Linked DNA regions of Homo sapiens: region 1 is linked to region 2. Evidence: fine-mapped expression QTL. A gene starts in region 2. The other region holds a variant in brackets. All regions are shown on one strand. Distances are between the middles of the regions. Region 1 overlaps CMBL (carboxymethylenebutenolidase homolog). Region 2 holds the start of CCT5 (chaperonin containing TCP1 subunit 5).

Evidence for each region.
Region 1: its variant is fine-mapped to the expression of CCT5 in whole blood (TOPMed, PIP 0.99).

The regions. Positions count from the first base shown.
Region 1 is chr5:10,298,326-10,303,705 of GRCh38, reverse strand. All of the region lies in intron 1 of CMBL (carboxymethylenebutenolidase homolog), which reads left to right. Among named protein-coding and RNA genes, the nearest start is that of CMBL, 6.9 kb to the left of the region's middle. RefSeq lists a silencer at 3,374-3,550. The variant G/A (reference allele first, on the strand shown) is at 2,713.
Region 2 is chr5:10,247,111-10,252,490 of GRCh38, reverse strand. It overlaps CCT5 (chaperonin containing TCP1 subunit 5), which reads right to left and starts at 2,211. Exons shown (of 11, transcript NM_012073.5): 1 at 2,046-2,211. The coding sequence starts at 2,150. It overlaps ATPSCKMT (ATP synthase c subunit lysine N-methyltransferase), which reads left to right and starts at 2,603. Exons shown (of 5, transcript NM_199133.4): 1 at 2,603-2,633. The coding sequence starts at 2,618. RefSeq lists silencers at 1,061-1,283, 1,614-1,753, 1,824-1,893, 2,644-2,703, 2,714-2,833.

The sequences.
Region 1 (5,380 bases), 51 kb before region 2:
TAACTGAGTTGTATGGCCAATAACTCAGTTTTTAAGGTTATTCTGGGGTCTCCTTGGTGAAGAGATGATCCAGTCAGTTGGTTGGGGGCTTAGAGTTTTTAGTTTACACTTTCCAGTGCTGCATTTGTGCTCTTTTGATTTTCCTTCAAGCCTGTTAGAACATCTGTTAGTTTTTTCCTGTCGTTCAAGTAGAGTACAATCCTCAATGTTGTTTGTTTTTATATCTGTTGAAGAGTGATGGTTTTACTTCTTTCTGAAAATTATCTTTTAATAAATACATGTGTTGTTGACAGAAGGAAGTCAAACTCTGTAAAATGTTTGAAGAGGTTTATTCTGAGCCAAATGTGAGGACCATGACCCATGACACAGCCCCCAGAGGGCCTGAGAACATGTGCCCAAGGTGGCTGAGTTACAGCTTGGTTTTATACATTTAGGGAGACATAGGAACTCGATCAATACATGTGAGGTATACATTGGTTCAGTCTGGAAAGGTGGGACAACTCAAAGATCGGGGATGGCAGGGTCAGGGTGGTAGCTTACAGGTCACAGGGGGATTCAAAGGTTTTCTGATTGGTGCTTGGTTGAAAGAGTTAAATTAATAATGAAAGACCTGGAATCAATAGAAAGGAGGGTCTGGGTTAAGATAAGAGGTTTGGGAGACCAAAGTTCTTATTATGTAGGTGAAGTCTCATAGATGGCTACCCTTAGAGGCAATAGATAGCAAATGTTTTCTGTTCAGACCTTTAAAAGCTGCCAGACTCTCAGGTAATCTTTTCAGGATCAGAAAGAGACCTGGAAAGGGAAGGGGATTCTCTACAGAATGTAAGTTTCCCCTACAAGAGATAGCTTTGCAGGGCCCTTTCAAAATATGTCAAAAATATTTTGGGGTAAAATACTTGATTTGTTTCAGGGCCTGCTGTCTATATCCTTGGATGCTGTATTTGAGTCAGGTTGGAATTTCATACCTTATTTCTACAAAAAGTCTGTTTCGTCAGTCTTGAGACCTCTGTTTGAATGTTAATGCTGGTCATTTGTGCCTGAACTTCAATGGAGGAGGGAATAATGAGGTATGTTGGACTCCTCCTTCCTGTCTTTTTTTTTTTTTTGAGACAGAGTCTCGCTGCAACCTCCTGGGTTCAAGCGATTCTCCTGCCTCAGCCGCCCAAGTAGCTGGGATTACAGGTATGCACCACCATGCCTGGCTAATTTTTTTTTTTTTTTTTTAGTAGAGACAAGGTTTTGCCATGTTGGCCAGGCTGGTCTTGGATCCTTGCCTCAAGTGATCCACCAGCCTTGGCCTTCCAATGTGCTGAATTATAGGCATGAGCCACTGAGCCTAGCCCCTCCTTCCTGTCATGGCCTGAATTAGTTTTACAGGTTTCTTTGGAATCGCCTTGGCCAAGAGGAGAGGTCCATTCAGTTAGTTGGGATGCTTGGAATTTTATTTTTGGTTTACAGTGCATTTGCAGGAGGAAGCTAAAATCCTGAAAGGTATATACAGAAAATATAGTACAGTTAGTTGAGAGTCAAGGGTATGTTCCCTGAGACTTGCCAGGGTAGAAACTGTTCGCCCTGCCCATTGTGGACTTGGCCCCTGGCACAAGGCGTGGCCTGGCTGCTGTGCCCACGTGGAGGGTCTGGGCAGGAGTCCAGCCTTCGACACACACGGGCGTCTCCTGTAGGAGAATAACCTTGCAGGATCAGCCTAGAGGGCTGCTCGCCTGGCTGTAAGCATTCCTTTTGCAAAATGGATGTCAACTGAAAATAAAGTAAAAACATTCAGATTAGAGGCTTCCTGGAATGGCCAGGATTTTCTGTGATCCCTAGGTCCTCATAGCCAACAAACAGCCCAGATAAGAAGTCAGCCCAGATAAGAAGTCAGCCCAGACCAGCCTGGCGAACATGGTGAAACCCCGTCTCTACTAAAAATATAAAAATTAGCCGGGCATAGTGGCGGGCACCTGTAGTCCCAGCTACTTGGGAGGCTGAGGCAGGAGAATCGCTTGAACCTGGGAGGCGGAGTTTGCAGTGAGCGGAGATCGTGCACTGCAATCCAGCCTGGGTGAGAGAGCGAGACTCCGTCTCCAAAAAAAAAAAAACCCGAAAAGAAAAAGAAAAAAAGAAAGCTCTACAGGCCTGAACTTGCTGCTTGTGTCTGAGGGGTGGGGCAGTCTTGGAACTGAGCCCTCACTGCCCCACGCGCCCCCACCCCTTACCTTTGGTCATGGTGTTGATGATCGCTGTATTGTGAGAGCAGAGGGAAACATGGCTTGAGAGTTTTTCTGAAATGGTGTCAAATGACAATGTTGAATTATTGAGTCTTACTAATTATAGTTCTATAATGTAGCTTATGAAAACCAAACCAAGAAAACTACAGTCCAGTTGTCCTTGATTGGATAACTAGTTATTAATTTCTTTCTTCTCAAAATCTAATTACTTTATTTCTAATTATGAAACACTAAGAATATTCAGTAATGTGAAGGGAATTATATAACAGCCACCCTTTCACATCACCCATATTTGAAAGATAATACCCTTTTGCCCTATATACTTCAAATCAAAACTTTTTAGGGAAATAAAACATAATAAAGCCCACGATCTCCATTTTTTCTCCCCTCTCTTCCCGGTAACCAATTGTCCTAATGGTGATAATTCATTCTCATGCGTGATACTTTTCCTACAGTATATTTATGAATAAAATGTATATTTTTG[G/A]TTGTTATTTATTTAGCATCAAAATGTATGTTTTTTGGTTGTTATTTAGAATCAAAATGCTATGTCTTTTTACATAGCATTATGTCTTTGAGATTTTTCAAGTTTTGTATTTCTATTTTTAAATAAAAATAAATATATAAAAAATATAAATATATATAAATAAATATATAAAAAATAAATAAATAAAAATAAAAATAAAAATGTCTCTCTTTGTTGCCCAGACTGGAGTGTAGTGGCATGATCATAGCTTACTGCAGCCTTGAATTCTTGGGTTCAAGTGATCCTCCTTTCAGTCTTCTGAGTAGCTGGGACTACAGGTGCATGCCACCATGCCCGGCTAATTAAAAAAATTTTTTTGTAGAGACGGGGTCTCCCTATGTTGCTCATGCTGGTCTCATACTCCTGGCCTCAAGCTATGACCATGCCTCGACCTCTCAAAGTGCTGGGATTACAGGCCTGAGCCACCATGCGGGTCTGGAGATTTATTATATTGATAAATTACAGGTGCAGCCTGTTCATCGAACTGTTGTGTAATATTCTTTTTATGAATGTATTTGTTTTCTAGGGCTGCCATAACATTACCAGATACTGGGTGACTTAAAGCAACACAGTGCCTCATAGTTCTGGAGGCCAGGAGTCCAAATTGAAAGTGTCAGCAGGGCTCTGCTCTTTCTGAAACCTGTAAAGGAGAGCCCTTCCTTGCCTATTCCAGCGTCTGGTGGGGGGCCAGCAATCCTTGGCTTGCAGGTGCATCCTTCCCATCTCCACCTCCATCTTCACACGGCCTTCTCTTCTGTGCGTCTGTTGTGTCTTTGTCCACGTTTTCCCCTCCTTAGAAGGACACCAGTCATTGGATTTATGGTCTACTGTACTCCAGTATGACCTCATCTTAACTACAGGACATCTGCAAGGACCCTGTGTCTAGTTAAGGTCACATGCACGGGGAGTGGGGGATAGGACTTAAACATGTATTTTGGGGGAATACAATTCAACCTACATCAATCAATAAATTACAGTTTATTCATTCTCCTGTTGATGGTCAATTAGATTGGTTCCAGGTGTTGTCATCATATTAGTGGTGCCAAGAACATTTTTCCATAATCACTGCATGTGCCTGTGTGGGCATGTGCAAATTTCTCTCTCTCTCTCTCTTTTTTTTAGATAGGGTCTCACTCTTAACACCAAGCCTGGAGTGCAGTGGTGCAGTCTTGACCTCCTGGGCTCAAGCAATCCTTCCACCTCAGCCTCCTGAGTAGCTGGGACCACAGGTGCACACACCACCATGCCTGGCTAATTTTTCTGCTTTTTTTTTTTTTTGGAGAGATGGGGTTTTACCATGTTGCCCAGGATGGTCTCGAACTCCTGGGCTCAAATGATCCCCCCGGCCTTGGCCTCCCAAAGTGCTGGGATTACAGGCATGAGCCACCATGTCCCACCACATGTGACATGAATTTCTCTAGGGAAACATCTAGTGGTGGGATATCTAGGGTGCGGGGCATCTGCTTCTTTAACTTTGCTAGACTCCTTCCAGGGTTTGTATCATTTCACATGCCCTCCCATTTCCCTACAAGTGTACCATCATCTCTGTGTTAACAGACTTTTGCCAATCTGCAAGATGGAAAATAGTATTTCATTCTTGTTTTTATTATAGTTTCCTTAAGAACAGTGAGGTTGAATATCTGTTCATATGTTTATGGGCCATTCAGGTGTACTTTTTTGTAAATTGCCCATTCATATGAATTTTTCTATTGGGTTGTCTTTTTCTTGGTGACTTATAAGAATTCTTTATATATTTTATCTAGACACTAAGTCCTCTGTTCCTAAAATAATACCTTCTCCTAGTCTATCTTGTTTTCTCACTTTGTTTATGGAGACTTTTATCTTGATATTAATGTTAATCATTATCTTATTAATCTTTCATCTTAGTTACTATCTTATTAATGCAATTTTAAGAGCTTTTTGTCATGGAAAATCTCAAGCATATATAAAAGTAGAGAGATTAGTACACAGGACACTCCAGCTGCACCACCATCAGCACGTGGACACCTTGTCCACCCTACCCCACATGGAGCTATTTTGGGTTTTTGTTTGTTTGTTTTTTGAGATGGAGTCTTGCTCTGTCGCCCAGGCTGGAGTGCAGTGGCGCGATCTCGTCTGACTGCAGCCTTTGCCTCCTGGATTCCAGTGATTCTCATGCCTCAGCCTCCGGAGTAGCTGGGATTACAGGCGCTCACCACCATGCCTGGCTAATTTTTGTATTTTTAGTAGAAACGGGGTTTTGCCATGTTGGCCAGGCTGCTCTCGAACTCCTGACCTCAGGTGATCCACCAGCCTTGGCCTCCCAGAGTGCTGGGATTACAGGTGTGAGCCACCGCACTCAGCCCAAATGGGGCTATTCTGAAGTAAATCCCAGACCTCTGGTCATGTCATCTGTGGGTACATCATGATATCATGATGCATCTATGAAAGACAAGGACTCAAAAACACATGGCTGCAATGCCATCATCTTCCCCTGCCAAAATTCACAATAATTTGCAATTTCATCAAATATCCACTTAGTATTCAGTTTTCTGCAGTTGTCTTTCCTTTTTTTTTAAATTGGTTACCATGAAATGGGATTTATAATCCTTTTCTTTATGGTTTATGTTTTTTGGGTCAAATTTAAGAA
Region 2 (5,380 bases):
GGCGTGAGCCACCGCGCCCAGTCAATGCCTGCATTTTTAAGGTGAAATATTATACAGTTAAGTGTTAAACAAGTGAAGAATCTCAACAAAATACATATTACCTTTAAGGCTCTAAATGACCAGAGAGAAAGAACTGTGACCATTACCATTAAAACGTTCACGTCCTGGCCTATACATTTCTTTTACCGTTGCCTTCAATTTCCATATATTTTGGTTCTTCAAGTTAGCTGGACGTTCTATGAGGTCAGGGAGCAAGTGTATATCCCTAAACTGCTGAGCCTCAACACTCACAGGATGCCTACCAACAGCATCCAACTCTTTTAAGAGACTTAAACACCCAGGTTACTGTCCAAATGAGCTCCCACAGCAAAGAATGATCCGACCTCGAATGTCAATATGCCAAACTTGAGAATGCTGCTCTAGACCACTGGCTTTGACTCTGACAGCGGTGGCCCTGACCATGGTAATGCTCTTTAGTAGCAACTGCTCTTCAGAACAATTTCTCAACTGCTCTGGGCCCAAGTCCCCAGTTTTGTAAAATAACCCTGTCTCAGAGTGTGCGACTTCTGGGCACAAATGCATGCAGTTTGAACAAAATGGCTGATGCAAAACAACCTAGTTTTAGTTATGTTGTTACACCAGGTGTGTGTATTGGATGTTATTTTCTCTGCAGGTCCCTGTTAAGTGGAAAATAAAATGGAATACATAATACAATTAGCTTGAAACTTTTTCTTTCTAGAAAGGAAACAAATACTGAGTGCCTACCGTGGATCAACCACTGTGCAGCCCCTCTAAGTCACTCCATTTAATATCACTGTCAAGTCTTCAGCTTGACGGAGGCCTATCACCTCCCCCTGGAAAAGGAGGTTCCGCGAGGTTGTGTAACTAGCACTAAGTCAAACAAAGAGTCCATAGGGGAACTGTATTGTTTCTAACTTTGCGTAAGTAAACCTCCAAGACACTAAGTGAACAGGGACACCTGAGAGACCTAGTGGAATGGTCTATTATGAATTCACTTTATAACAAACCCTGAAGGCCCTCTCGGAGTGTCCCTTCCTCTGCATTTTCTGTCAACGTCTGGTGCTCAGATGTTTCTTACCTGCACCCCTGCCCTGGTTTCTTTAACCCCTCTGGTCTTCCTTATTCCCTTCGGTCTATCTCAAGCTTTGCTGCCTGAAGTGCAGCTCTACTGAAATTCTGCTCAAAACCCCCTCAATGGCTCCCCTTCTTCCCCAAAGATAACGTCGTATTTTCCATGTTGGGCATTCAATAGCTTCCACCTTCGGGAACTATTGTAAGTTAAAGAAGTCAGTGCTCCATTAAAACCGGATGGCTCTTCCATTCTACAACGTGCCATGCGCATTCTTGCCCAAGCCTTTACTTCTACCGTTTCCTCTCCCTAGAATGCTACCTCTCACCCCGATCTAAAGCTGTCCTCCAGCACCACGCTTATGTGCACCCTCTCCGTAGCTGTCCTTCTCACTGCACACCACCTTGTATTACGGTTATGTGCGTCCGTTTTTCACTCTTCGCTATTTTTCCTCAAGGGTGGGCAAAAAAGCACTCAGAAATGAAATACCCTGTTAAGTGACCACACCTTTACGAGTGACAAAGAAAACGGAAGGGCCGTTGCGGGTGGACCAGCGAAAGGTTAAGCAGCAGCGCCTTAACCGACAGGTGACAGAGCATCTCCCCGGCGCCCTCCCACTGGAGCGCAGTCCCACGCGGCCGTCAGGCTGGAGGAGCCGGGCGGGGAGGCGGTCCCGCTTTGCTCCCGCGGGCGACCGGACTGAGCGGCCCCACCCAGCTCCGAAGGGCGCTGGCGGCCCAGCCTGGCTGGCCCCCACATTCCGAGCCCAGGATTAGGCGCCGGCGTCTCCCGAGCTCAGTAAGCGGGCTGAGCGGCCGGAGACCGCAGGGAGACGGAGATTCTCGACCTTTCCGGGGAGCACATGGCAGAGCCGCTCCTCAACTCGCGCAGGCGCAGAGCCACGGCCTCGGCCACCTCCCCTTAGCCCACCGCGAGCAGGTCCCTGTGCCATTACCTTGAGGGCCTCAAGTCCCATAAGACGGGACTTGCGGTCCTGATCCTTGATGATGAGGAAAGGGCGCCCATATTCATCGAAGGCGAGGGTCCCCATGGACGCCATGGTGCAACAACCGGAATTACTTCCCCCCAACCGGCGGAGACCGCTACGGAAGCGAGAATGCACTTCCCTTTCTCGGGAGGGCCCAAAAGCTTGCGCACGCGCAGCACAAGACGCGCGGGACTTATGTTTCTACTGAGACTAATTTCACGCCAGACAGTATCTTCTGGAATCGGCGGCCTTCGGGAACTTCTATTATCCAGGAAGCCGGGGAGGGGGAGGTTTGAAGACACTTAGTGGAAATCTTAGGACACACAAGTCAAGAGCAGATTGAATTTGTCATTTTTTAAAACGTTACCACTGATAGTTTCTCGATAGTGGGTCCCAAGGAGGAATTCATTGACTTAAAGCACTATTTCTTTATTTCTTCGCACTCCGGCTCCGAGAAGATGGTAGGACCCATTTCCGGTTTTTTTTTTTTTTTTTTTTTTTTTTTTTTTTTTTTTAAAAACGCTGTTGGAAATCTCGCGATGGAGGGAGGAGGAGGTGAGGCTGGAGCGGCTTGGCGGGTTCCTGGGGGCATGAGAAGGGGTGCGGGCGGGCCGGGGGCTCGCGGTCAGCTGAGGTCTCCACTGTCGAGGCGGTGACCGGGTGCGGGCGGCTGCTCTGGCCTCCAGCCTGGCCTTCGGTGACCAGAGCTCCTGGTCGCCGCGCGGTGCCCGCGCCGGTTCTGGCGATCCTTGTCGGCGGGCGCGTTTCCCCAGAGACTGTTCTAGGCTACTTAGTGCAAGTGACTCAGCCTTTGGCACGATCTTAAGGAATAGGGATAGTGGAGGCACACTGATGGATTGGAATCGCAGTTCTGCCGCTCTTCCTAGCTGTGGCTTTGAGGAAATCCCTTAACTTCTTTGTCCCTCGGGTTCCCTGTCTGCAAAGTGACGGTGGTAACAGTAGTGCCTACTCACAGGGCTGCTGTGAGATTCAAGGAGAACGGTGCCTGGCAAGCTGAACACAGTGTTGGTAAATAAATTAACATTTTGCACAAATGGTTCAGTAACTTGCCACTGGTATACAGCTAGTAAGAAACAGTTACACAGCCTGATGCAATGGGTCCCACACTCTTTTTTTTTTTTTTTTTTTTTGAGACAAGACTGTAGCCCGGGCTGGAGTGCAGTGGCGCGGTCTCGGCTCACTGCAGCCTCCGCCTCCCGGGTTCCAGTGATTCTCGTGCCTCAGCCTCCCAGGCAGCTGGGACTACAGGCACAGAACCACCACGCTCGCTAATTTTTGTATTTTTAGTAGAGACGGTGTTAACGCCGTAGTGGCCAGGCTGGTCTCGAACGGCTGACCTCAAGTGATGTACCCGTCTAGGTCTCCCCAAGTGTTGGGCCTGAGCCACCGCGGTGCCCGGCAGGTCTCACTCTTAAGCCCTGTATTATGCTGCCTCAGAAAGATCTTGGCAACCGCAGCTGTCCTCTAAATCTCTTATGCTGCCTTCCTCCCCGCCCTCCAAGATCATGACTTAATATTTGATAGGTTTAGATTTATTTGTTGAGGGTTTCCATCCTTGCTTCTCCCCTACTGCCATGGGCAGGGACTTAACTAATAAAGTTGTATTATTCCCAGACTTTATTAGGCACTCAATAAGTGCTGAAATGAATACATGCACTATAACATTTGACCCTGTCCTGAAACTCAAGAACAGACTTGGCGACTGTGTTCCCATCTACTCTGGGGCTGAGGCAGGAGGATGGGTGGAGCCCAGGAGTTCAGTTTACAGTGCGCTATAATCGCGCCACTGCACTCCATCCTGGGCGACAGAGCGAGATTCTGTCTCTAAAAACAGGGAGGACTGACTGTCATGGGATGGTTGGTGATCTGTTAACTCTTCATGCTTGGCATACTTACGCGCTAGACCTTGAAGTGTTCTTCAAGGACATTTTAGATTTTGGAGTCAGGTCTTATTTCACGTTAGCTTTGCCAATTCAGTGTTTCCTCATTAAAAATGGTGACTTCTGCAATTCATTTGGCTCCTTCGATTGTTGTGAAAAATAGAATGTCCTATGGCATCCTCTGTGTAGTTGATTCCCTGTCAAAACACTGGGGAGTGAGAGAGGATTTTTCCTAATATCAATAGCTCATGTATGTCAAAAGGACACAAATGACATTAGACTAGTATAAGAAAGGCTTCTTAAGGACATAAGAATATATGCTAAAGGGACATAACATATGCTGTAGTTATTAAACAGGTATGCACATACAAGTGCACAATGAACAGTCCTTATGAGTTGTGACATTCTGATATAAGCCCGCTTTAAACACGTGGCTAGTTACTATTCCTAACAGGCTCCTTCTCTCTTCTTGGCCTTTTTCTTTTGGCTTGAACTTGGATAAGAACCTTGGGTACCTTATTGTACATCTGTCACTGCCTCTAGCTTCAGCTGATCCAAATCTGCCACTAAAAATTGAAGTTTTCAACCAATATTAGAAGTCAATAAGCAAGCAGGGCCCGGACACAGTAGAAGTTAACCTCATTCTGTGTTTGACTTTAAAGGATGGACTACTAAGTGCTCAATGAAAGTAGCCAGTGGCCACTGCAGCCATTATTTAATAGAATGGCTCCTTGTTCCAAAGAACACCTGAAAGAAAGTTCTTGCCATTTATATATAGGATAGTCTGGGAGTCTGAACATGTTCCGTTAGAAGGATTTGTAGAAACAGTCTTGATTTTAGTTTTGAATATTCAGGGCCTGATTTTTACTGATAAGAATCAATACAGGTCCTGGCATGGAGGCACTTTAGGAGGCTGAGGCGAGAGAATTGCTTGAGCCCAGGAGTTTGAGACCAGCCTGGGCAACATAGGGAGACCCTGTCTCTAAAGAAAAAAATTTAAAAAATTAGCTGGGTGTGGTGGCATGTGCCTGTAGTCCCAGCTACCTGGGAGGCTGAAGTGGGAGGATCGTTTGAGCCTGAGAGGTCAAGGCTGTGGTGAGCTGTGATTGTGCTACTGCACTCCAGCCTGGACGACAGAGTGAGACCCCATCGCAAAAAGGAATCAATTGTTTTTCCTGAATGGAGCTAACAATGTAGTTCCTATATTGTACATCCTATATTGGATGTACATAGTAACTTCTTCCAAAGCTCCAGCAATGGGTATGGATCTTGATTTCCCCATGCAAATGTTTGTTACGTTGCAAGACTTGCAGGCATCAAAACCTGGGACAGAAAATAGAATGATTTCATCAAGAGACTCATTGCCCCTGTGTTGCCTTTCTTAAAAACACAAATATTATG